Linked DNA regions of Homo sapiens: regions 1, 2, 3, 4, 5 and 7 are each linked to region 6. Evidence: fine-mapped expression QTL. A gene starts in region 6. Each other region holds a variant in brackets. All regions are shown on one strand. Distances are from middle to middle.

Region 1 (4,064 bases), 39 kb after region 6:
TGAGCCGAGATGGCACCACTACACTCCAGCCTGGGCAATAGAGCGAGACTCCATCTCAAAAAAGAAAAAAAAAAAGCAGAAGTAGCAGTTAACATCTTTTTGCTGAGATTTAACGCTACTCCTGATGGTTCTTTTTTTTCTCTCTCTTTTTTGAGATGGAATCTCACTCCATTGCCCAGGCTGGAGTGCAGTGGTGGCATCTCAGCTCATTGCAACCTCTGCCTCCTGGGTTCAAGCAATTCTCCTGTCTCAGCCTTCTGAGTAGCTGGGACTACAGGCACCTGCCACCACACCCGGCTAATTTTTGTATTTTTAGTAGAGACAGGGTTTCACCTTGTTGGTAAGGCTGGTCTCAAACTCCTGAGCTCAGGTGATCCACCCGCCTCGGTCTCCCAAAGTGCTGGGATGAAAGACGTGAGCCACTGCACCCGGCCTCCTTATGGTTCTTAGTGCAATTTGGAGTAGAAGTTTGGTGTACAGTATTTTAGGAATATGTGAGAACCCAAGATTTGAAAATGTGCCAAAATGAGAGTGAAATGCCTATCAAAAATGTTGGTGACCTTTCAAAGAATGTAGCTACAGTTTCCTTTTGAGCGCTCAAGATTATTTTCATTGTACAGTATAATATTATAAAAGGAAATTTGGGATTGATCTAATTAGGCAATAAAAATCTTAAGTAATGAAACTTACAGTACAGATATGAATTATATAATAGGAGGGGCCATCTAGATAGATAGAGGAGTTATAATTTGGCAAATGAACTGTAAATGAGCACATGAAACAAGTTAAAGGACAAAAGCTGTTTCAAGAAGAATTTTCCCACAGAGCTTAAGACAAAGAATAAAGAAGTACTTTGTTAGCCAGGCCTTTGTCGCCCATTTTCATCTAGACACAACCTTTAATAGTTTTGTAAATGTAAGTTTTTAACAATATTGTTTATACCTAAGCCTGGAAAAGGACCTTAACACCATGACCAACTAGAAAACTGGAAACACTGAACAAAAAGTTTTGCTTTTTAACTTGTATTTTTTATACTATGTTCTTAATACTGTTTCTCCTCCAGCCTAGTATTGAAACAGTTCTGATTTGAGTCAATGTTGAGTTCAGCAGGAAGCACAGTGTGATGGCGGGGTTTTCTTCCATTCTGAGCATCTGGATGATGCCAGTGCTCTAACTGGCTGTGAGGCCCTTCCGACCTAGTGCAGGGAGAATCTTGTTTCATCTGATCATTTGGTACTTTGGGAACATGCAGTGATTATTGTAGTCCACCTGATAGTGAATTTCTGTATTTTTAGGACCAGAAGGTATGTTTTAAGTCGAGAAGATTTGAAAGGATAAAAGTGGACATGTGGGCCAGGTGCTTTGGCTCACGCCTGTAATCCCAGCACTTTGGGAGGCCGAGGCAGGCTGATCACGAGGTCAGGAGATTGAGACCATCCTGGCTAACACGGTGAAACCCCATCTCTACTAAAAATACAAAAAAATAGCTGGGCGTGATGGCGGGCACCTGTAGTCCCAGCTACTCAGGAGGCTGAGGCAGGAGAATGGCATGAATCCAGGAGGCGGAGCTTGTAGTGAGCCGAGATCGCGCCACTGCACTCCAGCCTGGGTGACAGTGCGAGACTCCATCTCAAAAAAAAAAAAAAAAAGACATGTGACTGATACAAGTGACACTGAAAATAGAACTGATTATGACACTTTATGACCTACTGTCCAGGTCGTAAGGCATCTATACAAATTATGGAGAGTGAACCTGTGGAAAATTACTTTGGCAAGAATTCTTGAAAAAAGTTTGGTTTCTTTAAAGTACATTATGGAAAATATTTTGATTTTTAAAATATGTTTTACATGTTGGCAGGAAAAAGAAATTATTGGATGCTGTGTTGAGTAACATGCACCCATCATGGAATCAAAGGGCTCTCCCTCTCATCTGTGGTCTTACTTTTTGTAGACCTTATTAAGAAGCTGTTTTGCACGCTTGAGGACCTGTCCCGAATGAACCCTACTCCCTACTCAGGAGGGGCATGAGCCCTC[G/A]CTGTGTGTGATGTTTTCTGGTGATGCTCACACTGTTCTGTGTGGGCAGACAGCGAGCAGCAGTATTGGACTTGGAGAGGCCGTGTGCCAGGCATGGTGCTCAGCGGCTTTCCTGTGCTACCTTATTACACTCCCATAAAACCCATTCAGGGTAAGAGTTGTGTTGTTCTTCAATTGAGGAAGCCGAGCCTAAGCATACCCACCAAGTGGAAACCAGGATTCCTACTCCAAAGCCTCTGCCCTTAGGACGGTGTGAGGAAACCTGTTCCTTGTGATCAACTCAGGAGCCACAAAGGGCCTGGAGAATATCTGCTCCTCTTCTACTTAGAGCAGAGGATGACTGACCCTTGGCTTAATGGCTGTTGGTACTGTTTTAGAGATGATTATACAATATACCAAAAAGTTCAAAGAGCTAAAAATATATCTCTATACCTTATTTTATATTTATCATTTTGACCATCAATTCTTCCTTACATTTAGCTATTCAAATTAAATCTGTTTTTTCTATTTTGGTCTTCTTTAGGTTTGAAAAATAACAGGTCAGCCTCTTCCCAGATTTCTTGACATCCTTGGAAACCATGCATTTATGCCATTGCAGAGAAGCTCAAGAATGGCCCAGATCCCTGTGGTCACCTGGCTGGTTTGCAGAGCCTTTCTTTGTGGCCTGCATTGTACCTCACACACTGCCTGCTACTTCTGGTCATGTTGAATTGCCCACCTTTTAATAACTTATGTCAGGTTGGACTTCAGTATTTATGGTCATAACAGAAATGTTTCTTCCAGTTATGAAGTGATTTGTTTTTTCATTAATAGACATCTGAGTGCCTACTATGTGGGGGGAAAAAAGGGCTCTCCTGACAGTTGTTTTTTTGTTGTTGTTGTTTGTTTGTTTGTTTGTTTTCCAATAATTTCAGTTGAAGTATCAGGAACTACCTGGGATTCTGTCCTCAGGGATAATTCTTTCTGTTGAAAGTCTCCAAGAGTGTGGTGATCTAATTATTGATCAAAGTTCATAATATGGTTTCTGCCCTCCTGAAACATATGGCCTACAAATTATCTATTTTTATGTTTAGTACTTTAAAAATGATATATTAAAAAATTAAACTAGAGTGATGATACAACTATCTGATCTTTGACAAACCTGAGAAAAACAAGCAATGGGGAAAGGATTCCCTGTTTAATAAATGGTGCTGGGAAAACTGGCTAGCCATATGTAGAAAGCTGAAACTGGATCCCTTCCTTACACCTTATACAAAAATTAATTCAAGATGGATTAAAGACTTAAACGTTAGACCTAAAACCATAAAAACCCTAGAAGAAAACCTAGGCATTACCATTCAGGACATAGGCATGGGCAAGGACTTCATTTCTAAAACACCAAAAGCAATAGCAACAAAAGCCAAAATTGACAAATGGGATCTAATTAAACTAAAGAGCTTCTGCACAGCAAAAGAAACTACCATCAGAGTGAACAGGCAACCTACAAAATGGGAGAAAATTTTCACAACCTACTCATCTGACAAAGGGCTAATATCCAGAATCTACAATGAACTCAAACAAATTTACAAGAAAAATCAAACAACCCCATCAAAAAGTGGGTGAAGGACATGAACAGACACTTCTCAAAAGAAGACATTTATGCAGCCAACAAACACATGAAAAAATGCTCATCATCACTGGCCATCAGAGAAATGCAAATCAAAACCACAATGAGATACCATCTCACACCAGTTAGAATGGCGATCATTAAAAAGTCAGGGAGCAACAGGTGCTGGAGAGGATGTGGAGAAATAGGAACGCTTTTACACTGTTGGTGGGACTGTAAACTAGTTCAACCATTGTGGAAGTCAGTGTGGCGATTCCTCAGGGATCTAGAACTAGAAATACCATTTGACCCAGCCATCCCATTACTGGGTATATACCCAAAGGACTATAAATCATGCTGCTATAAAGACACATGCACACGTGTGTTTCTTGCGGCACTATTCACAATGGCAAAGACTTGGAACCAACCCAAATGTCCAACAATG
Region 2 (4,064 bases), 150 kb after region 6:
ACTCTTCAGGCCTCTCTGGATGACGCGTCCTCCCGCCCTGCTCTACTCCCTGCTCCCTGCTGAGGCCATGCTGCTCTCCACACAGGGCCTGGAGCTGAATCTGCTCCATCACAGCAGCCCCGGTAGGGAAACCCCTGGGTGGGCACTCAGACCTCTACTGCTTCACAGCAGGGGAGCACAGCGGACCCCTAAGCCAGAGCCAGGGCTCATCAGCCCAAGCAGAAACTGTGTGACAGGAACCCTCTTGGCTGTGATCCTGGCCCTACAATGACATCGCAGGCCAAGCCAAGGCAAGCCATCCCCACCCCCACCTGGAGAAGAAAGGGTAAGTGGGCCCCTGGCCTGGAGGCTGCGAATCCTCTTTTGGATGTAGCAGCAGCTGTGGCCTGGATGATCACTCGGGCCACTCAGCTGACTCGAGCGGTGGACACCTGTTCTCCACATTAGCCCTGGGGCTGCCAGGTCTGGGGCCTCCACTTGCCAATGTGTCTGCTGTCAGTGTTGCCCCACAAAACAAGGGGAATGACCCAGCACACATAGCTGAGTGGTGATACAGTGCTCTGGCACCCCACAGCCATTCGGGCCCTCCAGGGCCAGGCAGGAACTGGCCAGGTAGAGGGGAGAAGTCTAAGGCAGGAGCACAGGCTATGGGGGGAACGCGCCCCACTCTCCCACAAAGGGGCTGCCCCACAGGTCCACAGGACACCATGGCAACCATCTCAGGAGAAAACCACAGCCCCTCAGGTTTTCTGCCACTATATGAAGTCAAGTCTCTCATCATCCAGGCTGGGACAAAGGGATCCCTAAAAGGACAAAAGGAGCTTCCTACCTTTGGAATCCCTTCTCCAATGTGCCCGCACTCCCTTCCCTGTGTGCGATCGCACCAAGAACCAATAGCACACAGTTACAGGGCACCTCGGAGCTCCAATTTCTCATCCTGTGACCCAAAGGAGTTATTTCTGCAGTTCTTAAAAATAAACTGGTGGCCGAGCGCGGTGGCTCATGCCTGTAATCCCAGCACGTTGGGAGGCCAGGGCAAGCAGATCACCTGAGGTCAGGAGTTTGAGACCAGCCTGACCAACATGGTGAAACTCCGTCTCTACTAAAAATACAAAATTAGCTGGGCATGGTGGCGCATGCCTGTAATCCAAGCTACTTGGGAGGCCAAGACAGGAGAATCGCTTGTACTTGGGAGGCAGAGGGTGCAGTGAGCTGAGATTGCACCATTGCACTCCAACCTGGGCAACAAAAGCGAAACTCCGTCTCAAAAAAATAAAAATAAAGTAAAATAAACTGGTGGCAGATTTTTCTCCCAGCACCTTAGTCATGTAAGTTACCAGATACAGAATGCCAAAAGCAAACCAAAAATCTGTTAGCTTAATTCAGCAACAGTCAGCAAGCCCCAGTCTCATCTGTGACCACGCAGGTCCAGGTTGCCTGGCCCAACAGCTGCACATGGTGTTCCGGGTCTCTAGGCTGGTCCGGTTTCCTCCAAAGCAGCCCTGACTCCAGTTCCTGCCCCTACGCGAACAGACGCCCTTCCTGTTCCACTGCAGGCCCAACTCTCCATTCAGCACATAGGAGTGAACAAGGAGGGCCACACATTTTAGCGGCGATTCCAACGCCTTAGGTAGAGCCAAGGCATCAAGGAGAATAAAACCGAACAGCTAAGATGTAAGAAAACCCAGCGGCCAGAGTCAAAAAAGTGGGGAGGGGTAGAGAATGCAAGTCCCCAGGCCCCAGGTTGGCTGACCCCACCCTCCTTCCCCGGCAAGCCCTTTGGCACCAGCAGCTGGTCCTCATTCCAGGCTAAGGGCTCGCCGT[A/G]GTGGCTCCCTCCGAGGCTGTCCCACCAGACGCTTAAAGGTGGCTCCATAGTGGAAACGACTTCTTTAAAGAAGAAAGATGAGTCTCATGTTCGGGCAACCGCCCGTCGCAGGGGTTAAACGGTCCTGACAGAGCAGCCTTTTCACCCTCCCCTGGGCCAAAGCACACACGTGTTCTCTGCTTTCCCTGCACACCGGCCACTCAGATCTGCTTCTCCACAATCTCAGCCCCTCAGCGCCCGCCAGGGTCTCCCCTACAGCCCCTGCCCAGCCCAACACGGCCAGAATGACCCGCGGCCCAGGCCGAGGCCGCAGGGTGGCCCCCGACCTTCCACTGCCTTCGGATGCTGACATGAGGTTCCCGCCCCGCGCTGGGGGCAGCGCCCCGTCCCTGCGCCGGTGTCTCTTCACGCACCTCCACCGCCCTCGCACAGGCGGAGCCACCAGGGGCTCGGTTTCTAGAGGCCTGCGAGCTTCTGCCACGCAAAACGCCACAGGCACACGGCAGAGCCCCGGGGCCGCCCTGCGCCCACCTCAGGACGGCTCCGCTGGTCGCACGACGCGCGCTCCTTCCCTCACCCCACTGCCCGCTCCGGCGTGGCGCTCCCCTCTGAACCCCCAGGAGACTCTGGAGCCCCTCGGTGAGAGGCCGCTAGTCTTCCTGACCTGCACCCTTCTCACCTGGTTGGCAAATCCCCGGAGGTGAGCCATGGCCGCGCCGCCTCAGACCCTCCGCCAGCAGCCCCAGGAGGCGTCTGGATCCCGCGGAGAGGCGCGGAGCCGGCTAGCTCGCCCCTGCGGCGTCAGTCCACTGCGAGGGACACCAGGGGCGCTCGGTGCCCAGTTCAGTCATCTGAGACCGACCTCCGGGGCGGCGGGCTCCATGGGTGGGGGGGGGCCCAGGAGACCCCCCAGGCCGCCGGGGCCCCGCCACGCCCGGGCCTAACGCCCAGGCTCCCGGGGGCTCGCCGCCCCTCCCGTCGCCGCCCCCACCTCTTCCAAGGCAGCTTCCTCCCGGTGCCCCCGCCCCGGTGTCCCCGCCACCGAGCCCCGCCCCGGGCCCCTCCCTCTGCCCCCTCCCCAATCGCCGCAAGCGCCCCGCCCGGCAGCGCGCCCACCTCCGCGGGGCTCCATCCCGGCCTCCCCCGGCCCGCTCTGCAGCGCCCGCGAAGGCTCCCACCCGCAGCCTCTGTTCGCCCGGGGACCCCGGGCCTCCCAGCCCGCGAAGCAACGGTGGTGGCGGCAGCGACCGGAGAAAGCCCGGAGGCGACGGCGAGGGCGGTGCTCGGCGTCGCGGCCCGCGCACGGCTCTCTGGGACCCCGAGTCCCACCGCCCACTCCGGGCCCGGAAGCCTGCTGGCGTTGGACTACAAGTCCCGGCAGGCTGCGCGAGAGGGGGCCGGGGCTCGCATGCGCGCCGCGAGGCTCTCTGGGACCCCTAGTCCTGCTCCCGAAAGGTTTGGACTGCGTCTCCCGGCAGGCCGCGCGCCTGGGCGGGCGGGGCACGTGGTCGTTGTCGCGTCGCGCCCTCCCTGCCTCGCCCTCGCGGGTCTTCTGCGTTTGCTGGCGCCTGCCAGGCGTCGTCTCCGACGTTACGGCGGCCGCGCGGCCCTCTCCCTTGGGCTCTGCCCTGCGCAGCCCTGGTTCGAGCGGGCCAGTGAGGCCCGGCGCCCTCCCCGCCTCGCCACGAGGATCCACCGCGGCCGCCCAGGCTTCTAGCCTTGTCGTCACGGCACGGAGATAAGCCCGCGCTGGCCACATCGCGAAGCCCCTGTTCGTACTGAGACCCCGCCCGGGATCACGCGCACAGGCCAGGGCGCACCAGGCCTTGGAGAAGCTACCGGCACAGCCCATTCCTTGGGCGAGTTGCTTCGCCTCTCCTGCCTCAGTTTCCTTACCTGTCAAGGGGTGGTCATAGGACGTCCTTGGTCACACCGTTGTGGGACCCACCTGGGCTAGAGCGCGGGACGCGCCCAGGACAGTGACTGCTGCTGGAAGCCGTCATGGCACTCCCCAGGGTCCGGGAGGGACTTGCAGATCCCAAGGCTACCTGGTGCGTCCCCGTGCCCCGTGGGCCGCCAGGTCATAGTGCCCCCTGTGTGCATTCCCCTAGTGCACCGCAGGGATCCCCACCTGTCCGGTGAGGAAGATTTGTCCCTCCTGCATACTGTGTCCACCCTTACAGGCCCTCACTCTCCATGATGGCTCAGCACAGGTGACTATCCTGACCTCCTCACATCC
Region 3 (4,057 bases), 100 kb before region 6:
TCAGGCCTAAACAAACGCTACAGTTAACCAAAACCAAAACAAAACCGTAAAAGCAAGTTTATGGTGTATGTGTGGTTCAAGTAGTGCGCAAAAAGGTCACTTTGTGCCTACAGACTCTCGTCGCTGTCACGTAAAATGCCCACAAAACATAAGACTGACACCAGAGAGCTCACCATTGCACAGGCCACAGCACAGCTGCCAAGGCTATGTTTACTCATAACAAAAACGGATACACGGACGTCAGTCATGTTATGCAGGTCGGTGTCCCACTACCTGGGAAAGGCTCCTTCATCCACTGAACTATCCAGGAATGGAGGACGTGCTTGCCTTCTCACCTTCCACCCAAAGGTAACACACGCGACGTGTGCACTTGTTTTCAGAACACGCGAGTGTGTGAGTATAGCCATACAGTTAAACAAAGAGGTGTAAAAAAACATTCTTGGTTGGGCACAGTGGCTCATGCCTGTAATCCCAGCACTTTGGGAGGCCGAGGTGGGCAGATCAACTAAGGTCAGCAGTTTGACACCAGCCTAGACAACATGGTGAAATTCCATCTCTACTAAAAATACAAAAAAATTAGCTGGGTGTGGTGGTGCACGCCTGTAATCCCAGCTACTTGGGAGGCTGAGGCAGGAGAATCGCTTGAACCTGGGAGGTGGACGTTGCAGTGAACTGAGATCACGCCACTGCACTCCAGCCTGGTGACAGAGCGAGACTCCGTCCCAAAAAACAAACAAACAACACAAAACATCCTTGGACCTGCAGCAGAATGCCCACGACACACTTCTAACAGCATCCTGTAACTGTGCTACACCTGCAACCTGGCACAGGTGAGGCACACAGCGACCTTGGCCCACATGACATACTTCCAACAGTGTCCTGTAACTGTGCTACACCTACAACCTGGCACAGGTGAGGCATATAGCGACCTTGGCTGACATATCACTGCCTCTTCAACAGAATCCCCCTGCTGGGTGTGGTGGCTCACACTTTTAATCCCAGCACCTTGGGAGGCCAAGGTGGGCAGATCACCTGAGCCCAGGAATTTGAGACAAGCCTGGCCAACATGGTGAAACCCCGTCTCTTCTAAAAATACAAAAATTAATTGGCTGTGGTGGCATGCACCTGTAGTCCCAGCTACTCAGGAGGCTGAAGCTGGAGAATTGCTTGAGCCCGGTAGGCAGAGGTTGTAGTGAGCTGAGATCACGCCACTGCACTCCAGCCTGGGTGACAGAGTGAGACCCTGTCTCAAAAAAGTATCCCTCCCCATGTTGTTTTACTTGGGCACAAATCTAGAATGTTTTTACTCTTCAGTGAGTTCCAGATCAGCAGTTTCCACGTTCAGAAGGCATGAGTACTACCAACACTGATTGGCTAACCTAGCAGGTCTGACGGAAATATAGAGAATGCTGCCCTTGGGCATGCCTTCAACATGGCCTCTGTGGGTTATTTGGGGAGGGCTTAGATGGATTTCCAAAAGTGACAATTCACCCACTGGCCAAGCAGCTCTAATCCAACCACTGCACCAAAGGGAAAAGGAAAAGTGGCCTCTTCCAGCAGGCAGGAGGATGTAAAGTCTGTAACTCCCATTACAGGCAGCAATGGGCCTGGACTGTCTGCACGGACGTCACAGTTCTCACAGCTGACACCCCCCACAAGGGTCTCAGGGCACACTGGCCCCACCGCAACAGACAGCCTCACTCACTGTTGGCACCGCTCTTCCCAATGAGGTGCCTGTGGAACTTGTGGTCGATGTTGATCTCCACATAGTCCATCCGGTTAATCTGCAGGAGGAGCACAGAGGTCCATGGATGCGCCTGGTTACTTGGCCAATGAGCTGAACCAAAACCCAGCAGTCTCCACGGTTGCCTTTTCTGACCACTCAGCTGTCAGGAATTGTTGGAGACTGCCCCTGCATCTCCCCTGAAAGATGCCTTCTTCAAGATGAAGTTTCCTCCACCCACGATTATTCCAGGACTTCGACCAGCTTCTGGTTGTTTCAGAACCTATTACTCACCCAGCTAGGATGCCCTGGGTGTCTGTGCCCGGACATGTGGGATGTCATCGAGAGATGACCGCCCATGCCCAACTCAGAGCCTCCCTTGTCACCAGCACACACAACATTCCAAGGGGTACCTTACCAAATCTTTGACCATGCCTTCTATCTGTTCCTGGGCCACA[T/C]TGACATCCTCTGTAGGGCCCTCCAGGGTGATCTTGTCTTCGCCCTCTGTGAACTCGATGTGAACCTACCACACCAAAACCAAAGAGATAGCTAAAACAGAATGGCACAGCTGCAGCCCCTGAGCTCCCAGTGGGAGCTCTCTTCGGAGCGGCTTCTGATCCCAAACTGCTTCACATAGATGTGAGGGAGGGAGGGACATATCCACAGCCATCAAACAAAGTTGAAAGGGAGGGTTAGGGAGCCATAGTCAGGAAACTAAATACTGTGGCCGAATAATCCTGCCTCTCACTAAGGACACCGTTTGCCCCACAGAAGCCACTAACATAAAGCATGCGACATGCGACATGCTCCTCCACCATCTGAACTTTTACAAGGCCTGGTCCTCTTGAGTTGCATAAAGAATGAGACAGAGCACGGATGGAATTTTAAAACTCGTATAGCTGTACCAAGGTGGTAAAGTAACTTGCTTGACATAGACAAGGCTGCCAGAGTTCCTGGTTTATTATCCTCCAGGTAAGGAGTTAAGGAAGGCAGACTGGTCCTTATATGAAGCTATACAAAGTAAAAGGGGCTGGGCACAGTGACTCACACCCATAACCTCAATATTTTGGGAGGCTGAGGTAGGAGGACTACTTGATCCCACGAGTTCGAGATCAACCTGGGCAACTAGTAAGACTCTGCCTCCACGAAAACTAGCCTGGGGCGCCTGTAGTGCCAGCTACTTGGGAAGCTGAGACGAGCGGATCACTTGACCCATGAGTTCAAGGCTGCAGTGAGCTATGACTGCGCTACTGCACCCCAGCCTGGGTGACAGAGTGAGGCTTTGTCACTAAAAAAAAGGAATAAAATAAAAAAAATTTAATTTTTAAAAAGGACTGTAACATTAATTGGAAACAAAGTTTAAATAAAACAGGAATTAAATATGATGGTTGGATTCTCTGGTATTTCTTTTTTGTTCATGTTTCCTGGGGGCTACAATCTCCTTTGGTAAACTGAGAACGCTTTAAATTCACACTTAATACAATTTGTATACAAGTTCTGCTCTTCAAAGTATTTTTTTTTTTTTTTTGAGACAGAGTCTCGCTCTGTCGCCAAGGCTGGAATGCAGTGGTGCCATCTCGGCTCACTGCAAGCTCCACCTCCCGGGTTCACGCCATTCTCCTGCCTCAGCCTCCCAAGCAGCTGGGACCACAGGTGCCCGCCACCAAGCCCGGCTAATTTTTTGTATTTTTAGTAGAGTCGGGGTTTCACCATGTTAGCCAGGATGGTCTCGATCTCCTGACCTCATGAGCCACCGCACCCGGCCCGCCAAAGTATCATGAAGTTATTTCACCATAATTACTAAATGACATGTTTCTTAAGATACTTATGAAACCTAAGAACATACAATCCTCTCTGGTTAAAGGCCAGAAGGATGGTACAGACATCTACAGACATTTATTCTGCTGTTCTTTAAGCTAACACGGAAGTTGACCATGTCAAACAGGCCAGTTAATTCAGAAAAATACACCAGTTTTCAAGGGCATCCACAGTACAAAGGTCAACAAAGCAATATCAGAAACAGAAAGACAGAAAACAAGACAAATTCAATACAACAGGTGAAAAACGTGTCCTTACCTTTGGCATCTGCTGAGTGATTTTGGCCAGGTTCTGCCCTTTCTTGCCAATGATGAAACGGTGAAGCCAGGAAGGGGCGGCGACAGAGGAGACGGTGAAGCTATTGGCCTAAGAAAATGGGAGAACAGCCATGGGTTTGCAGAGCTCAAGGTCGTGTCACAGTGAAAGCCAGGCTGCTCACCTGGGGCTCAGAGGCACGCTCTCCCCAAACCTGGGCACCTGCACTGTGTCCAGGCCCCAGGATTTACAAATCGAGAG
Region 4 (4,064 bases), 100 kb after region 6:
TCTCCTGCCTCAGCCTCCCGAGTAGCTGGGACTACAAGCACCTGCCACCATGCCCGGCTAATTTTTTGTATTTTTAGTAGAGATGGGGTTTCACCGTGTTAGCGAGGTAAAGTTATCTTTAAAATTTGGCACTTAATAGTTACTGGTTTCCCATAGAAAAACATTAGAAATTAACCTTTGAGAATTTTTTTAAATAGAAAAGGATTTTTTTATTATAAAATACACAATGAAATATATTTCATCATCTTTAGAATTGGGCTGCAAATTTGGCACCTATTTATTCGAAAACAAACATGGTTTTAAGAAGGGGAAAATTATTACTGTGTTTTAGAAAACCAAAATAAAATCCCCATTAATGAAAAACTCAAGGAACTGGAAAACAGTATCATGAATTGAGCAGTTTTATATGATCCGTTTTTTAATGAATAATAAGTTTGGCCTTAAAATAGACATTGTCTTTTCAGATGTTAGCCCTGGTTTGACATCTTAAGTCTCTAACCTCTAGCAATGCACATAGAAAGTGTTCCCCCGTCCTGGTGGTGCCTTTTGCTTTACACACTTTGTGGTGCTTAGTTTTATCATAGTTACATATTCTGCAGAGCCCAAAAGAAGCCCCTAGAAACACAAGGTTGGTATCCAGGCCCCCCTAGAGTCCGGGGAGGATCCACACTGTCTGTGGATTGCTCTCTGAAATTGGGTAGATGAACCATCAACCCTCATTTTCATTTTATGTCATGTTTAGAATTGTGTGTGATAGAGGCTGTACATACACATTTTACAGGAAGCGCCTGGCACTGTGTGAGGCTGGCGGTTGAATGGTCAGGAGAGTAGTAGCGGCTCTAAGCCAGCCTCACAGCCCTTTCTCATTTCTCGCTCCATCCCCCTCCCCGTTCATTTCCAGGCCTTTCCACGAAGAGTCCTCAGCCTTCTCCCTCCAGCCGGAAGAGCCCCCTGAGTCTGAGCCCTGCATTTCAGGTGCCTTTGGGCCCAGCTGAACAGGGCTCATCCCCACTCCTGAGCCCTGTCCTCAGTGATGCTGGCGGAGCCGGGATGGACTGCGAGGAGCCCAGACACAAGGTGGGCCCCTCGAGGCTGAGAAGCTAGCAGAGGGTTGCAGGGTGGGCCTGTTTTCACTGTTCCTTCGGGTGGTGCTGGTGGGGACCCTGGGGCGGGGCAGGGAAGGGCTCTGCACTCACAGCCGCCTTACCAGCCTCCTGAGCAGAGAGGAGGTACTGGGCCGCCTTCCCTAGCAAAACCTTCCTGAGACTTTCCTCTTATCTCTGGGACTCCAGGTTCCTTCGTACAAAAACGAGTTTCCTTATTCATTTAGCAAACGGTCCCTGGAACCCACAGGCTCCATGTGTCAGGCTGGATCTTCCAGCCTCCCCCACTCTTCCTTCCTTCCTTCCCACCTTCCTCATTTCTCCCTCCCGTCCTCCCTCCTTTGCTCCTTTCTTCTCTCCCTGCTTGGTCAAGCTTCTACTTTGACAATTGAGTAACTGGGAGGAAAGATCTGGGTGCTAAGGGAGGGTGCACTAGGGACTGCTTTGGGTTCCGGAGAGGCTCTTGGGCAGGAGGCCCAGTGTAGAAAGATCTGGGTGCTAAGGGAGGGTACACTAGGGACCGCTTTGGGTTCCGGAGAGGCTCTTGGGCGGGAGACCCAGTGTAGAAAGATCTGGGTGCTAAGGGAGGGTGCACTAGGGACCGCTTTGGGTTCCGGAGAGGCTCTTGGGCGGGAGACCCAGTGTAGAAAGATCTGGGTGCTAAGGGAGGGTACACTAGGGACCGCTTTGGGTTCCGGAGAGGCTCTTGGGCGGGAGACCCAGTGTAGAAAGATCTGGGTGCTAAGGGAGGGTGCACTAAGGACCGCTTTGGGTTCTGGAGAGGCTCTTGGGCGGGAGACCCAGTGTAGAAACATCTGGGTGCTAAGGGAGGGTGCACTAGGGACCGCTTTGGGTTCTGGAGAGGCTCTTGGGCGGGAGACCCCGTGTCGATGTTGGAGACAGTGGAGGAGCCACCTGGGGCGAGGGGGCGGTTCTCTGCTGTTGTGGCACGGGG[A/C]GGGGGGCACATGGGCCACAGACAGGGGTGAGGCTTTATGACAAAGTTGAGGCAGTGTCCCCTATGGGTCTCTTTTTATCAGAGATGATAGGAATAAGGGCACAAACTGAGAGTCTGCAGGGAGAAAGTGACCGAGCAGAGAAGCTCACTGCTGGCAGGCACAGGGCAACCAGGGGCAGGGATGCTGTGGCCTCAGGGTGGCCTCCACTCTCCTAGCCCAGGGGAGTCTGCCTACAGCTACGGTTTTGCAGATGGACCCTAAAAGAAAAGACTCAGGGTCCAGGGAGTTTGTAGACTATATTGGGCCTGGAGTCCACAGAGAAGGGAGACATGGGGTCCCTGAGTGGCAGCTGGATGGGAAGAGGCCATGGGGCCTCTAGGAGGGAGGGAGTCAGTGCTGGTACAGGGGGAGGTATGTCATTGTGACACCTCAGCACTCCTGCTTTGGCCCGAATTGGCCAGAGGATATTCTGTCCAAGGCCTGCCTTCCAGATGCCAGGGCTACCCGTGGGATGCTGGGACTCTCAGCAGGTAGGATGGCACAGGCAGGGCAGTCTCCTCCTTCCTGGTGCCCTGAGGGTCCCCCTGGATCCCACTGGAGTGGAAGGAGCCCCCTGGTCTGGAGGCAGCAAAGGATATTAAACGTACTGCTGCACGAGGCCTGCAAGTGAGGGCTAGTTCTGGGCCCTGGCAGCAAGACTGTTTCCAAAAAAGATGTCTTTTTATTTTATTTTGGAAACCTAATGACAATCTCTTTAGTTCACTGTTTCTTTGGTACAAAAAAAAAAATGGCTACCAAGCAGTCTGTTATTAAGACTAAATTTTAATTTGTAACTTTTTATATTACAAAAATCAGTTGATTCTTTAGATGGTTCTATAGGATGACAGCTTGTCACATCTGAGGATAATTGGGCTGGTGGCAAGTGGCCCTGGGAGAAGCCTGTGAGTCATGACGTGGCATGGGGCCAGCAGCATGGCAAGGCCCTCTGGGATGGGGGCACCTCAGGGTCCTCACCGAGCCATGCCCTTGAGGAGTTGGTGGCTGGGTCACTGCAGAGAAAGATTCGGCAGCCCTTGGGCCCAGCCCCTGCGTGTGGGCACCCTCAGCCCTGACGTGGTGTCTCCTGTTGCCTCTCCTCAACACCTGGGCTCTGGAGGGAGGGCTCTGGGCTCTGCTTCAATTCTGTGTGTGTGAGTTGAGATAGCAAGGCTGTTGCCCAGCACAGGTGGGCTCCGAGATGGCAAGGATGGCCCTTTCATCACCATGCAGGGGCTGCTGGTTTGACCCAGAGGTAGGTTCCCACCAGAGTACCCCTCTGTGCTGACCTCATGAACCAGTGTGCCCAGCCAGGCTGCAACAGGTTCTGGGGAGACCCCGGCCCCACATTCACTGACGGTTCTGCTGGCAAGGCCTGGCAGACCACTCTCCTGGGGAGCCAGGGTGACAGGGGTCTGAGAAGCACGTGCTGCCACTGAGGCCACCCGTCAAGCTTTTGCACTTGCACCCAGTTGCTGGGCTGTGCGGGGAGGGGCAAAGAGCTGCCCACCCTCCAGCCCACCCTCGCCAGCTGGTGCCCTCCTCCCCAGTGTCTCCCACTTGATGCACTGTTTGTCCCCTTTTTAATAGAGATTTGTGAGGATCGGCCACAGTCGAAAGGTAGGAAAGCCAAAGGTGGCAGAAGCCTCTTCCACGCTCTGCATGGGCACATAGACCCTTCATGTGGGGACAGGTGGCGAAGCTCACAGGAATTGCATGCTCCTCTGGGCCTATCCCTGGCCGCCGTCTCATCCCTGGCCTGCAGCCCAGCTTGCTGGGGGTCAGGTTTGACATTGATCTAGAGGTGGGGGCAGCGTGGCAGCTGCTGTATTTTCTGTCCCTGAGAGTCTTCTCACGGTATTCCTTGGGCTGATTGGGCGGGGCGGGGCGGGGGCAGGGGCGGGACGGAAGACCCTTCTCTTGGCCAGTCTGCTCCCCTGACTCCCCTGTGACCCACTGGTGGCACCTG
Region 5 (4,064 bases), 110 kb before region 6:
AACACCAAGCTAAGAGACATGAAGAAAACTACACAGAGACACATCCTAACTTGCTCAGAGACGGTGGTAAAACCCTAACAGCAGCCAGAGGGAGAAGGTTTGTCATGGACAGAGGAACAAAGCCAGGGGCACCATCAGCTTTCTCATCAGAAACAACAGGAGACGGCAATGAAGCCAAGTCTGGAAAGGAAAAAAACTGCCAACCTAGAAACCTTTATGCAGCAGAAACAGCTTTTCGAAAGTGAAGGAAAAAAATACTTGCAGACATACAGAATGTGAAAGAAGTCATTACCGGATACACACTACGAGAGATGTTGAGTGGTTTCCTTCAGACAGAAGGAAAATGAAGACAAGGATCACGCCAAGAAATGAAGAGCTCTAGAAATGGCAACTGTGTGGATAAATACATACATTTTTTCATATTATTTAAATCTCTTTAAAAAATAATGGAATTTTTTTTAAAGGTTAATAATGTAAATGGTGGACTGAAAGCCAATCATATAAAATCATGACATCATGGTGGCTGAGCACGTGGGGATGGTGGTAGTTGCTGTTTAATGGGTGTAGTTTCTGTGTAAGATGATGGAAATGCTCTGAAAATGGACAGGGTGATGGTTGCACAACCTTGTGAATGTACTCAGTTGAATTAACCATTAAAAAACGATTAAAATGATACATTCTGCTATGTATATTTTACCACAATTGAGGAAAAAAATTACAGTAAGTTATTTAACCGTGTTTGTTAAACATATGTAATAAATATAAATATGTGATATATAACATATATAATCACAACTGTAATTAAATGCAAACATCATAATCTTTTTTCTTTTTTTTTTTTTTGAGACAAGGTCTGGCTCTATGGCCCAGGCTGGAGTGCAGCAGCGCAATCTCAGCTCACTGCAACCTCCACCTCCCAGGCTCAAGCCATCCTCTCACCTCAACCTCCTGAGTGGCTGAGACTACAAGCATGCAGCACCATTACTGGCTAATTCTTTTTGTAGTTTTAGTAGTGACGGGGTTTTGCCCAGGCTGGTCTTGAACTTGTGAGCTCAAGTGATCCGCCCACCTGAGCCTCCCAAAGTGCTGGGATTAGTAGATAGATTTAATTTAAAAAGCAAGCTGCCAAAAAGAAACTCACTTTAGTATCATATAAAGGAGGCTGGGTGCAGTGGCTCACACCTGTAATCCCAGCAGTTTGGAAGGCCAAGGCGAGAGGATCACTTGAGGAGTTTGAGACCAGCCTGGACAACATAACAAGACCTCATCTCTACTAACTAAAAGAAGAAAAAAATTAGCCTGGTGCGGTAGCATGCACCTGTGGTCCCAGCTACTTGGAAGGCTAAGGTGGGAGGACTGCTTGAGTCTGGAAAGCCAAGGCTGTAGTGAGCCATGACTGCACCACTGCACTCCAGCCTGGACGACAGCAAGACCTCATCTCCAAAAAAATTTTAAATATAAGGGGGAAAAAAATAACATAGACTTTGGAGCCAAGCATACTACCAGGGAAAAGGCATCATTTTATAATGGCACAGATTACATATACTGTGAAAGAGAGGTGACGTCAGTATTGACAGCAAAAGGATAATGCAGGACTATTCTAAAAAACTTCATGTTAATACATTTGACACCTTGGAGAAAATAGAAAACCCCTTGAAAGACACTAATTACCAAGTACACACAAAGAAACAGATGATCTATCCCTACAGTGCAATATTATCCTGAAATAAAAAAGAACAAACCAACAATACAGGTGACAACACACACAAATGTCAAAATATCCTGCAAAGTGAAAGCAGATGGGCCCAATAAAGAGTAGATGTTATGATTCCATTCACACAAAAGCGTAGACAATCCAAAAGCATCTACTGTGGCCGAAAGCAGACTGGGGGTTGCCTGGGGATAGAAGTGGGGGTGGGGGGAGTGTGGTTTTCAGGAGCTGCCAAGTGGGATGGAGGGAGACTGTAATACAAAATGGCATGGGACATTTTTGGGGTGATGGTGGGAATGATTCCATGGATGTATACACACGTCAAAACTATTACA[T/C]TGTACACTGTAAATATGTACAATTTACTGCATGTCAATTTTTTTTAAAGGAAAGAAAATACCGTAAATACCTTCAGATAAGATTTTCAGGTAACAAGAAGAAAATGTCTAATAAGACAAGTGCCCACGTCAAATGTTACTGCTGCAGGGTCCAGGTAAGTAAGTATCGTGAGAGACAAAGGCAGAAAACTGCTGACCAACTCATCAGTAGCCTGGATTGAAAGGTGCAATCTTCCACATCAGCCTGCGCTGGCCCAATGACCCTGCGTGACTCAACCCCAGGCTCAATCTTAGAGGCTGTTAGAGATTTTACTGGAGGATCTCCATTAGAAAACATCTCCCATTACCAGGTCTTTCTGAATAGACAGAATCCTGCTCCGGGCAGCTTCGCAGTTGGCTCGCTTGCCTGTGATGATAATGGTCTCTGAATTGCTATTCTCTGCTGGAAGGTCGATTTTGGTGTTGCTTTCTTCACGAATCTACAGGGAGAGAGATCACCATGAGAAGCTGACTAGAGCTCTCCCAGAGTTGAGACACAGTTGAGCACAGGGCTAGAAGTAAGGAAGAGTCCCTCCTAGTCTAAAACCAAAATGGTGCAGGGCTACAGAGGACAAGGCAAGAAGAAGCAAGATGCAGCGGACAAGTTATCACCTTTTTAATGTTTGCGCCTCCTTTCCCAATGATATTCTTGTGAAACTGTTTGAAGATCGGAACAGAAATTGAATAGCTATTTTCCACCTTAAAGACAAAAAACACAGCCCGATTCACCACCTGTGCTAGAGAGTAAAATACAGTATCCCTTCTACCCCTAAGGGTAGCATGAACACGACAGAGCACTGGTATTTGCAAACAAACCTTCAGAGGTTTGTCATGAGGGTAAGTGAGATAGATCATTTGTCCAACAACTAACTTACGTTGCAAATTACAGTCAATCGATGCAAGTCTACTTTTTGGCTAAGAGAGAGTTCATGTCCCATGCCAGGATCAGAGCTGGTTAAGGAAGGGGCTCAGAACACACATGGAGACAGCACGGACCCCTACGCTCTGGGCAATTCTGCACTCACGGCAGTGATGTGACAGCAGCTCACAGTGCTGGAGTCCTTCACCATCGCCTCTCCCAGGGCAGCCATCAGCTAAGGTGAAGCCCACGGAAATACATGGCTGCCTGTGGCCTTCTCATCCACTACTCACTACACTTTCTAAACCTGTTCCCACGTCAGTTTTTGAGAAAAATAATAAATCAGTATATGACTCCTCATGTCACCTGTTATACCTCTTATCTTACTGGATGGGACAATTTCTCTAAGTATCTGAAGACTCCTCAAGGAAACAAGGTAACTGGGCATGAGAAAAGGCAAATCTCCCCACCTGAATTCCACAAACACTGCAGTCTTAACAATGACTGCCAATCTAAACATCCAGGTATTAAGTGAGAAGCCGTCACCACTTTGTCCCAAGTCCCTGAGATGGAAGGCCAGCCCAGGGCCTATGTGCTTTCCCCAGAGCAGGGGTCCTGTGGGGGTCAGGACTTCTGACAGGACGCATGCCCCACCCACCCCAGGTGCTGTCATACAAGAAAGGATGTGAAACACCCCTACCAGATCTGCCACCATCTTCTGCATGTATTTTGTGCATTTTTCCACCTCATTCTTAGGTCCTCTGAGCTGGACAATGTCACTTTTTTGTGCTGGGTCTGGAAAGTTAATGATGACCTAGAACAAATCATGGGGAGACTAAGTTCAAGTATGAGGAAGGACATATATCCCAAATATCAAATATTCCTGAAGTGTGACTTGGATCACTCCTATAGAGTTACAGAATGTCTCTGGGAAACTTTACCTCTGGGAATTTGTCACGAATTTCACGGATCCGTTCACCCTTCTGCCCAATGATTGTGCGATGAAATCTTTGCTCAATGATTAGATCCTTGGTACGCTCATTTTCCTAAAAATACAATTAAAGTAGATGTCATTTATCACAAGCACGGCGAGCAACTCCCCACTGACACAAGGGGACAC
Region 6 (4,064 bases):
TTTTATCAATAAAGCACTATTGTTTAGATATTAAATGAGTATTTCTCTTGGTTATTTGCAAGGGAAAGTTGTGAGGTTTTCTGGGAAAATTCAAAGTCTTGACAACATCTTTGTATAAAATCAAGAAAAATTACTTGAATCAATAGTGTCAGTACTGGACAAGTTTGTACGTATTGGAGATCCAGCCCAAAAGAAAGCACAAAAGATTGGAAAGGAATTATTTACAGGTGATCAGAACATCTACTTAGAAAGTACAAGACATCTGGTGAAAATTAACACTAAGAAGTCAGTGATATCTATTTTCTAATTAGAAAATGTAGTGAGAAAAGAAATCGCATTGATAATAGCAACTACTAAATTACTGGAAATATAAGTGAATGATTGAAATATATCTAGGAAGAAATTTCTAACCTATAAATTTTCAAGAATAGGCTAAGGCGGCTCTGCCACTTGAGTAAAGGAAACTGGAAACCTGAATTGATCTGGGTGGCTGGACACCTACACTCCAAGGCCTCTAGCCTTCTTCCTGCCCACTGGACTGATCATCCCAGGACCACCTTGGGCCCCTTTTACCTTGCTATCAGTGTTTTCTGAGCTTCCTTATAGACAGACCCCTGGATACTGAAACTTGCTCTCTCTAGTTCCTCAGCTGACAGCTGCCACGCCTGCTGCCTTCCCTCCAGACTGCCAGCCTCAGGTCACCAGCACACACCCTGCATCCTACCAGGGGTCAGTACCACCCTCTGGCCAGGCTCTCACCTGCACTATCCCCACCCGGCCCTGCCCGTCTGCAGGCAGGGATCCTCTGTTCTGGGGTGTGTGCACCACTCTGGGCCTGGTGGTGTCATTGGGGGTTGGTTAAAGGAAAAGCCCCAGAGGTGGGTGGCACATGAGGGGAGCATCCCGCACAGCTGAGCCCAGTCTTGGTGTGCCTGGGTCTCAGACCCCATAGTTGTCTCAGGAGAAATGGAGGTTCCCCTGAGCCAGCATTTCTCCTGTCTGGGCTTCTGGGAAACGAAGGGTCAGGTTTCACTCTGGAATCCACAGCACCATAGGAGGAGTCTCTTAAGTGCCCGGGTGTTTCCTGAAGTTAATTATTCCCTCAACAGCCACATGGTGACAGTGGGTGACAGGGCCGGGCTAGGAGAGCACGATGGGTAGGGTCTTGAAGAACACATAGGAGTTCAATGAACTTCTCAAGAGAAGGGAAGTGTGCCACAGCAAGTCAGTCTTCCATTCTCGGGTGGGGGTCCCTAGGCCAGAGGAAGGCCGTCCTGGCCGCCACCACGGAGCAGCCTGTCTCAGCCTTAGCACAGCCTCGCGCGATCCTTCGATGATCCCCTTCGGTCCCTGTAGTCCCACGAGGGATGCAATGCGTTGGAGGAAGGAGGAGGCTGGCAGCCAGGGACTGAGCCAAAGGGTGCAAGGACAGCCGGCAAGGCCCGGGCCAAGACCTATCCCCGCCCAGCGAGCCAGGCCTCGCCCAGCACCTATCCGCGCCCAGCAAGCCTAGGCCTCGCCCAGCACCTATCCGCGCCCAGCAAGCCTAGGCCTCGCCCAGCACCTATCCGCGCCCAGCGAGCCTAGACCTCGCCCAAGACCTAGCCCCGCCCAGCGAGCCGACTCCCCGCCCAGGACCTAGCCCCGCCCAGCGAGCCGACTCCCCGCCCAGGACCTAGCCCCGCCCAGCGAGCCGACTCCCCGCCCAGGACCTAGCCCCGCCCAGCGAGCCGACTCCCCGCCCAGGACCTAGCCCCGCCCAGCGAGCCGACTCCCCGCCCAGGACCTAGCCCCGCCCAGCGAGCCGACTCCCCGCCCAGGACCTAGCCCCGCCCAGCGAGCCGACTCCCCGCCCAGGACCTAGCCCCGCCCAGCGAGCCGACTCCCCGCCCAGGACCTAGCCCCGCCCAGCGAGCCGACTCCCCGCCCAGGACCTAGCCCCGCCCAGCGAGCCGACTCCCCGCCCAGGACCTAGCCCCACCCAACGAGCCGACTCCCCGCCCAAGATCTAGCCCCGCCCAGCGAGCCTTGGCTTCGCCTAGGACATTGCCTCGCTCAGCAAGCCGACGCCCCGCCCAACGAGCCGAGCGCTGCACAGATTTATATCCTACGCAGCTGCCTGCCTGCTCCCGCCCCTTCTCCGTCCGTTCACCAATCAGAACTCGATCTTGCGCTTTCAGGCCGCGGGACGGGAAGGCTCCGCCCTGGCGCCCCGCAGGCCAATCGACTGCGCGTCCGCGTCGCGGGGGCGGGGTCAGGGCGGGGCGCGCTGCGCGGGGGCTGCCGGCGGGCAGTTGGGAGCAGGCGACGCCGACGCGAGTCTGGCGGCTGCTGCTTGCGACTGCGGAGGCCGGGCGAGGCCGGTGAGGACGCGGCGGGCGAGCGAGAGGCCGAGGGTGAGGACGTGAAGCGGCCTGGGCGCGTGGGGCAGGGGTGGGCCTCTCCGGGTGGGCGGCGAAGCCCGAGGCCCGAGGCGAGAGGCCCAGGCGGGGGGGGCGCTGAGGCCGCGGTCCACCAGAGATGGTCCCGCCCGGCCTCTGAAGGCCATCGTGAGGCGGCTGGAGCTCCTAGGCGGGTCCGGGTTAGAGGAGCGTCCGTCTGTAGGGAGCCTGCCGCGTGGGGGCAGGCGGGGCGGTGGGCCGGGGAGTGGCCCGCGTGGACTCCCGGGTTGAGGGGTGCCGCGTGGAGGAGGCCGGTGGGGCTGTAGACCGGGGAGTGTCCCGCGTGGACTCGCGGGTTGAGTTGTGCCCCGTGGAGGCCGGCAGGGCCGTGGGCCGGGGAGTGTCCCATCCCGGAAGGACACCCCAGAGTGGGCCATAGGGACCCGCAGGGTATGGGCCTGGAGGTGCCTGGTGGAGGCATTTTGAGCCGTTTGCCTTTTTAGCATTTCTTTAAATTGTATCTTAAAGGTGGGAATCAAGTGTTAGGTGTTAATATTTTTACTCCACTAAGGGCTAGAAATACTCATAAGCCAGTGGGTAGCCTTTGGGAAACCCATGAAAACTGGGGACCAGAATATGGCCCAGTACATTACACACCCGAATTACGGGCACCTTTTCCGTTTACGCTATGGCAGCAACCCCTGGCCTATCATGTGCCATTAATGGATGTGAAAAGCAGAAATTAGAACAAGGCATCATTGAAGGAAAGATTGTCAATACATAGTGTTAAAAAGGGATGGGCAAATTTAAAACCCAAGGCCAAATCTTTAAAGGGTGGTTTTTCTCTCTGGGTTTTTGTTTTTGTTTTGTTTCCGTGGGATATTTTTGTCTGGGCCACTGTGTAAATGTTTGATAACCCTGAGGTGGCAGTGGGTTAGCGTGTTGGTCTTGTGTAGACTGCCTTATAACAGGCGACACAGATTTTCTCAGTACCAGAGAGATGGGAGAGGACATTTGAGGTAGGGAAGCATGGAGTAACCTTTACTTGTAGGCCAAATATAATTTAAATTTTCTACATCTGCTTGTTGAAAGTTTTGTTTTGTTTTGTTTTTTGAGGTCCTTAAAGGTTTAGGAAGCACTTCATGCTCGTTATTTATTCAGTTTTCCAAAACTCTTCAGAGACATGACCAAGTTGCACAGCCCCGTTTTAAAGTAGAGGAAAGGGAGGTTGAGAGAGGTGGAATGACCAGTTTAGGGTCACACCTAGGGTACTTGCAAATACCATCTGTACTTCTCATGTGCCCTATCCTTGTTGCAGATTCTCATTAGGTGGTTCACTGTTAACAAACTAAATGCTGATGATGCAGTTTCCTGGACTGCAGACGTTTGCTGGCTTATTTACCTATAGGACTATCAGTCGTTAGTAAATTTCCAGGTTCCTTGTATACTAATTCCTTTCCCAAAGAGGAAGTTGATATAAGGTGTATTCATTTCTCTCTGCCTCAGGTTCCTTATTCAAAAAATGAGTTTAAAATTTACTTGGCCAGGCACAGTGGCTGTAATCCCAGCACTTTGGGAGGCCGAGGCAGGCAGATTGCATGAGCTCAGGGGTTCCAGACCAGCCTGCTCAACAGGGCGAAACCCCATCTCTACTAAAAATACAAAAATTAGCTGGGCTGGTGG
Region 7 (4,064 bases), 85 kb before region 6:
GTCTATTTTGCAGTTACTTTGTTCTTCTTGCTGTTAGCCTGTAAAAGTCCTTCAGTCCTTTCTAATCCACTGGGGATCTAGAAACCAGGTCATGAAATCGCAGGATTGAAAGGAACCTTCAAAGGCTGTCTGGGGAGGACCAAGAACTCTGTGAAGTAGGAGGGTGAGTCACCTTGCCTTAGGGGACTCTGGAGATGGGAGGCTGGCGACCACATGTGCTCCTCAACCATGAAAAGGTGGAACTGCTGACAGGAGTGAGGCATGTGTCTAAAATGGGAAAAGCAATGACAGTAACAGGAACACCCCACTCAACTGGAGAAGACTACTCGTACCGTGACAATAATCTTGCCCTTACGACACATGGGTCCGGAGCTGAGAAGGCGGTTCATGGCAATGGGGGAGCATCCAGTAGACTGGATTAAAGGGTCTCGCCTTTCCAGCAGAGGATGTGGACTGGTGGTATTTCTGGATTCTAATCTTGGTCATGAGTTTTTTAAAAACTCTAAATACAGGGCTTGAGTCACACAGGGAACCTGCCACAAACCAGAGACACTATGGGGCCCCAGATGCACCAGACACACAGATGTACCCCAAGACTGAAGGGGAAAGCTGGGACAAACTGATCAAGAGTATTCCATTTAAAAGCATCACCAAAATTCTAGTTTGCAAGTTTTAAAGATTAAAGTAAGAAAATTTCTCCAAAGTGTCAGATTAGCACATTCACAACTCGGCAAGAGCTCCTTGAGATTCCAAGTGTCTGTCCAGTCTGGGAGCAAAACAGGGCAGGGCACTCCAGGCTAAGGTGCCCCAACAGGTGTCCAGTGACACTTGCCTCTGGTCTCCCGCATCCACCCTCCGCCCTCCCACGCTTGCTTGCTGACTCTCACCTGGCATGGTCTCTCACTCAAGGTTGTCCCGGGCTCCAATGTCACTTCTTAAACCCAGACACCCACCCCCTTATCAAGCTAGGTTCTGGGCAAGTCTCTAGTGCCCAGTGACAGCCACACTAGAAGTCTGCAAAATGCAGTTCCGTCCATGTCAGCCCGCACCGACTCTCCAGCACGGAGCTGTGATGAGCCAATCCCCACTGTGCACCCAGTGTCAGTCTCTTCTGAGACCACTCACACACCCTTCAGAAGCCAAGTCCAGCCGGACCCTATACTGAAAGGAGTCTCAACATAAGGGAACCTACTCCTGTGTCTGAGGGAGACCCTGGAGCAGAGCCTCTCATGTTCCTCAGGCGTGCACAGACCCTCAGGCAGCCAGGTAAGGCAGAAGGCAGACCTCCAGAAAACTCCAGACTGGTTTGACAGGCTATACTGGGTCCCTAGCCTCCAGATTCCAAGTGGCAGTTTGTCAGAGCGTGTAACGAATGGTTCACAACTAGAGACACATTTAACATCTAGGGTTCTGGTATCATCAAACAACATTTTGTTTTTCTTCTAAACAACTCAAAAACCTGTTTTCGAAGACTGCGTTTTAAGCAAGCATTTGATGACCCACATGTAAATGCAGACCCTGTCCCCACCTGAAATTCTGGGTGAGATTTTCTTAAAAGTCAGTCTCATTCTCCTTCTGTGCTCCCAATCCAGTGAGGCACAGCCCAGGGGTCCACCTGCCTCTGGTTCAACAAAGCAGCACCTAAGAAGCTGACCCTACAGCCCCATGTCCACCCCGCACTGCTACGCCCTGCTCCTGGCTCTGCCTTCACAGACAACACCCACGAGGGTTTAATCCTGTTCCATGTGGATCTTTCAGCAACCCCAGGACAGCGCCAGGCAACTCCACTTGCTATCTGAAGTTCCCAGGATACCTTGGGCAGGCCTAGATACCCAAGAACAGAGGCTAACATCGGGTATCTCAGATTCTCACTGGATCTAACAGTACTGTCCAAATCAGGATTGAAAGGAACCTCAGATATTAATCTAATCCCATTTCTTAATACCACCAGGGACAGGAAATTCATGGCCTTCTCAGGGCCCGGGTCCACCCCTGCATGGCTGTAAACGCTCCACCTCAAGTTATGACAAAATCTACAACTTCTTTCCCCTTTCTGGCCATGGAGAACAAGTCCGCTCTCCTCCAAGGCTCCTTCTGGTAGGTGAGCCCTATCTCCTGTCTCCTTCAGTCCCTCCCATATGGCCCCAGTCCCTTCGTGATTCTGGCTCTCCCAACTACTTTTCCCATAGGAAGCTCGGATCAATCAGTGTCCAGGTCCACCTAATGTAAACCTCAAACTATACTGAACCTGGACTTTTAATTTTGTTTCCCAGAGTGCAAACATCCAAAGCAAAAAAGGTCACATCTCAGAATTTAACTTTCAGCAAACAGAACTAGAAC[TA/T]AAGGAAGGAGGGCAGGAACCAAGACCCCTTTCCGCCCTAATACGTGTAGAGCAAAACGTGGAGTCCTGACAGAGCTGTGTGTTGCGTGGGAAACCTGGTGCTTACAAGTTTAGCACAAGTCTAACAGGTTTCTGACAGCAACAAAAAAGGCTTCACATGAGGGGTTCTACTTTTTTGCTTTTAAACGAGGAAGTAATTAAGTTGATTCCCTTGTGATAAGTTTTGCCAACTACATATTCAAGGGGCAACAGTCTTCGAAGAGAATTATCAGTAATACTCCAGGAAGAATTTCATTTCAGCCTCAGTTAATGAGACCCGCAAGTGCTTTAAAGCACCAGACAGGACCGGGTATGGAGGGCACCAAAAAAGCCTCCGGCTGAAACCCAGACTTCTCCTCTTCCAAAACTAAAATTACTCAAGACCACAAACCAAAGTTCAGAATGGGAAAATAAAATCCTGATCCACTCAGAGATCACAAGATCGAAATCTAGGAGAGACCACAGGCGACTGGCGAGCAGAAGGCAGGCTCCGCTCCGCACTTCTCACCAAGTTCTGGAAGTCGGCACCCATCCTGCATGGAGGAACTTTCGCAGATGCCACCTCAGCACGGCCCTCCCACAGGCCACGAGGGCCCGCGGGCGGGGACAGGCTTAAAGGGACAGCAACCCCTCGGCCTCCCCGCCTTTCATCCAAATTCGGTACTTTTCCGTAATGTATTTTTCATCCACGACCCTGGGGCACGTCCAAGTTGCACTCCAGGCCCAAGAAGAGCAGCTTTCCCCACCCCCGAACACGTAGACTGACGCGGGCCCCGCGCGGCAGGTGGAGGTGCTGCGGGGGCCCCGCCGCCCGGTCTGCGCCCAGACCCCCGCCCCGCCGCCACCTGGGGGGAAGGACCCCGCTGGCCTCCCAGGGACCCCCACCCTGGCCGCACACGGCGCCCCCGCCGGAGCGGGGGAGGGGAGGGCCGGCCCCGCCAACGTCAGCGACCTGGGCTCAGGTCGGCCGCCCCTCCGCGCCGTGCGGCCACGGCACCAGGGGTGCCCCACCGAAGCCCCGGGAGGAGGCGGGGGAGCCCAGCTTGCAGCCAAGAGCGGCCCAGCGGCGCCACCGGACTTGAGAAAGTTTGTGCGCGCCCCTCCGCGCCACGGCCACGCGCAGAAGAGACTCGGAGCCGGCCCCAGGTCTGGCCCGGAACCGCCACGCGCGGTAAGCAGGACACCCGCGGGCGGGGGCCGCAGCCTGGGGCCCGGGTGGGGGCCGCGGCACCCGGGCCCCTCCCCCTCCGCGGCCTCCACGTCAGCAGCCACCCCCCACCCCCCCGCCCGGCAGCCCGCCCGCCCCGTCCGCCCGCCCGCCCAGGCCTCCCAGCCCCGTGTTGCGCGCTCACTCGTGGGCCCCCGCCCGCTGGTCCTGCCGCTGGCTTACTCGCCCCCCGCGCGGGAGAAGCCGGGACGCTCCGAGGCGCGGCGCCCGGGCCCCGGCTGCTATATAGGGCGGCGGCCCAATCCCGCCTGGACACGTCAGCGCCCGCCCGCCCCGCCGCTGGGGTCCCCGCCGCCCCGGGCCGCCCAGCACCCGGGAGGCCCACCCAACTGCAGGCGTGGTTCTGCATCCTTTTTTCGGGTGGGGAAGGCGGTGCCGAGGAGTTGGGAAATTAATCACCTCCAGAAAGCAGAGGGAGCGCGCCCCGCAAGAACCCGAGTGGAAACAACCGAAGAC

Direction of the effects. Positions count from the first base shown, and alleles are read on the strand shown. Sizes are in standard deviations (SD) of each study's normalised expression. Not every link is listed here.
In carriers of allele G in region 1, the expression in skeletal muscle of the gene that starts at base 2,293 in region 6 tends to be lower than with A alone (small effect, 0.34 SD a copy in GTEx).
For the expression in sigmoid colon of the gene that starts at base 2,293 in region 6, allele C in region 4 goes with a higher level than allele A (moderate effect, 0.47 SD a copy in GTEx).

Evidence for each region.
Region 1: its variant is fine-mapped to the expression of FARP2 in skeletal muscle (GTEx, PIP above 0.99).
Region 2: its variant is fine-mapped to the expression of FARP2 in hippocampus (GTEx, PIP above 0.99).
Region 3: its variant is fine-mapped to the expression of FARP2 in whole blood (TOPMed, PIP 0.98).
Region 4: its variant is fine-mapped to the expression of FARP2 in sigmoid colon (GTEx, PIP above 0.99). The same link has a PIP of 0.9 or more in aorta, coronary artery, esophagus mucosa, esophagus muscle, gastroesophageal junction and lung.
Region 5: its variant is fine-mapped to the expression of FARP2 in whole blood (TOPMed, PIP 0.98).
Region 7: its variant is fine-mapped to the expression of FARP2 in whole blood (TOPMed, PIP above 0.99). The same link has a PIP of 0.9 or more in blood mononuclear cells.

The regions. Positions count from the first base shown.
Region 1 is chr2:241,392,886-241,396,949 of GRCh38, forward strand. All of the region lies in intron 2 of FARP2 (FERM, ARH/RhoGEF and pleckstrin domain protein 2), which reads left to right. Among named protein-coding and RNA genes, the nearest start is that of FARP2, 39 kb to the left of the region's middle. RefSeq lists a silencer at 267-326. The variant G/A (reference allele first, on the strand shown) is at 2,035.
Region 2 is chr2:241,505,502-241,509,565 of GRCh38, forward strand. STK25 (serine/threonine kinase 25) reads right to left here and starts at 3,083. Exons shown (of 12, transcript NM_001271977.2): 1 at 2,942-3,083; 2 at 2,505-2,634. The coding sequence starts at 2,534. LOC107985788 (a long non-coding RNA gene) reads left to right here and starts at 3,371. Exons shown (of 2, transcript XR_001739177.2): 1 at 3,371-3,596; 2 at 3,937-4,064. RefSeq lists enhancers at 216-752, 1,908-1,957 and silencers at 2,388-2,437, 2,718-3,487. The variant A/G (reference allele first, on the strand shown) is at 1,825.
Region 3 is chr2:241,251,252-241,255,308 of GRCh38, forward strand. HDLBP (high density lipoprotein binding protein) reads right to left here. Exons shown (of 28, transcript NM_005336.6): 9 at 3,800-3,907; 10 at 2,142-2,246; 11 at 1,706-1,784. Among named protein-coding and RNA genes, the nearest start is that of HDLBP-AS1, 19 kb to the right of the region's middle. The variant T/C (reference allele first, on the strand shown) is at 2,182.
Region 4 is chr2:241,455,846-241,459,909 of GRCh38, forward strand. FARP2 (FERM, ARH/RhoGEF and pleckstrin domain protein 2) reads left to right here. Exons shown (of 27, transcript NM_014808.4): 14 at 902-1,077. Among named protein-coding and RNA genes, the nearest start is that of MIR3133, 20 kb to the right of the region's middle. The variant A/C (reference allele first, on the strand shown) is at 2,059.
Region 5 is chr2:241,244,359-241,248,422 of GRCh38, forward strand. It overlaps HDLBP (high density lipoprotein binding protein), which reads right to left. Exons shown (of 28, transcript NM_005336.6): 13 at 3,886-3,990; 14 at 3,645-3,758; 15 at 2,698-2,784; 16 at 2,394-2,525. Among named protein-coding and RNA genes, the nearest start is that of HDLBP-AS1, 26 kb to the right of the region's middle. The variant T/C (reference allele first, on the strand shown) is at 2,047.
Region 6 is chr2:241,353,993-241,358,056 of GRCh38, forward strand. FARP2 (FERM, ARH/RhoGEF and pleckstrin domain protein 2) reads left to right here and starts at 2,293. Exons shown (of 27, transcript NM_014808.4): 1 at 2,293-2,396. SEPTIN2 (septin 2) reads left to right here. Exons shown (of 13, transcript NM_004404.5): 13 at 1-35. RefSeq lists a silencer at 2,081-2,630.
Region 7 is chr2:241,269,029-241,273,092 of GRCh38, forward strand. All of the region lies in intron 1 of HDLBP (high density lipoprotein binding protein), which reads right to left. HDLBP-AS1 (HDLBP antisense RNA 1) reads left to right here and starts at 3,136. Exons shown (of 2, transcript NR_168372.1): 1 at 3,136-4,064. RefSeq lists an enhancer at 2,950-3,029 and silencers at 3,170-3,479, 3,750-4,029. The variant TA/T (reference allele first, on the strand shown) is at 2,341.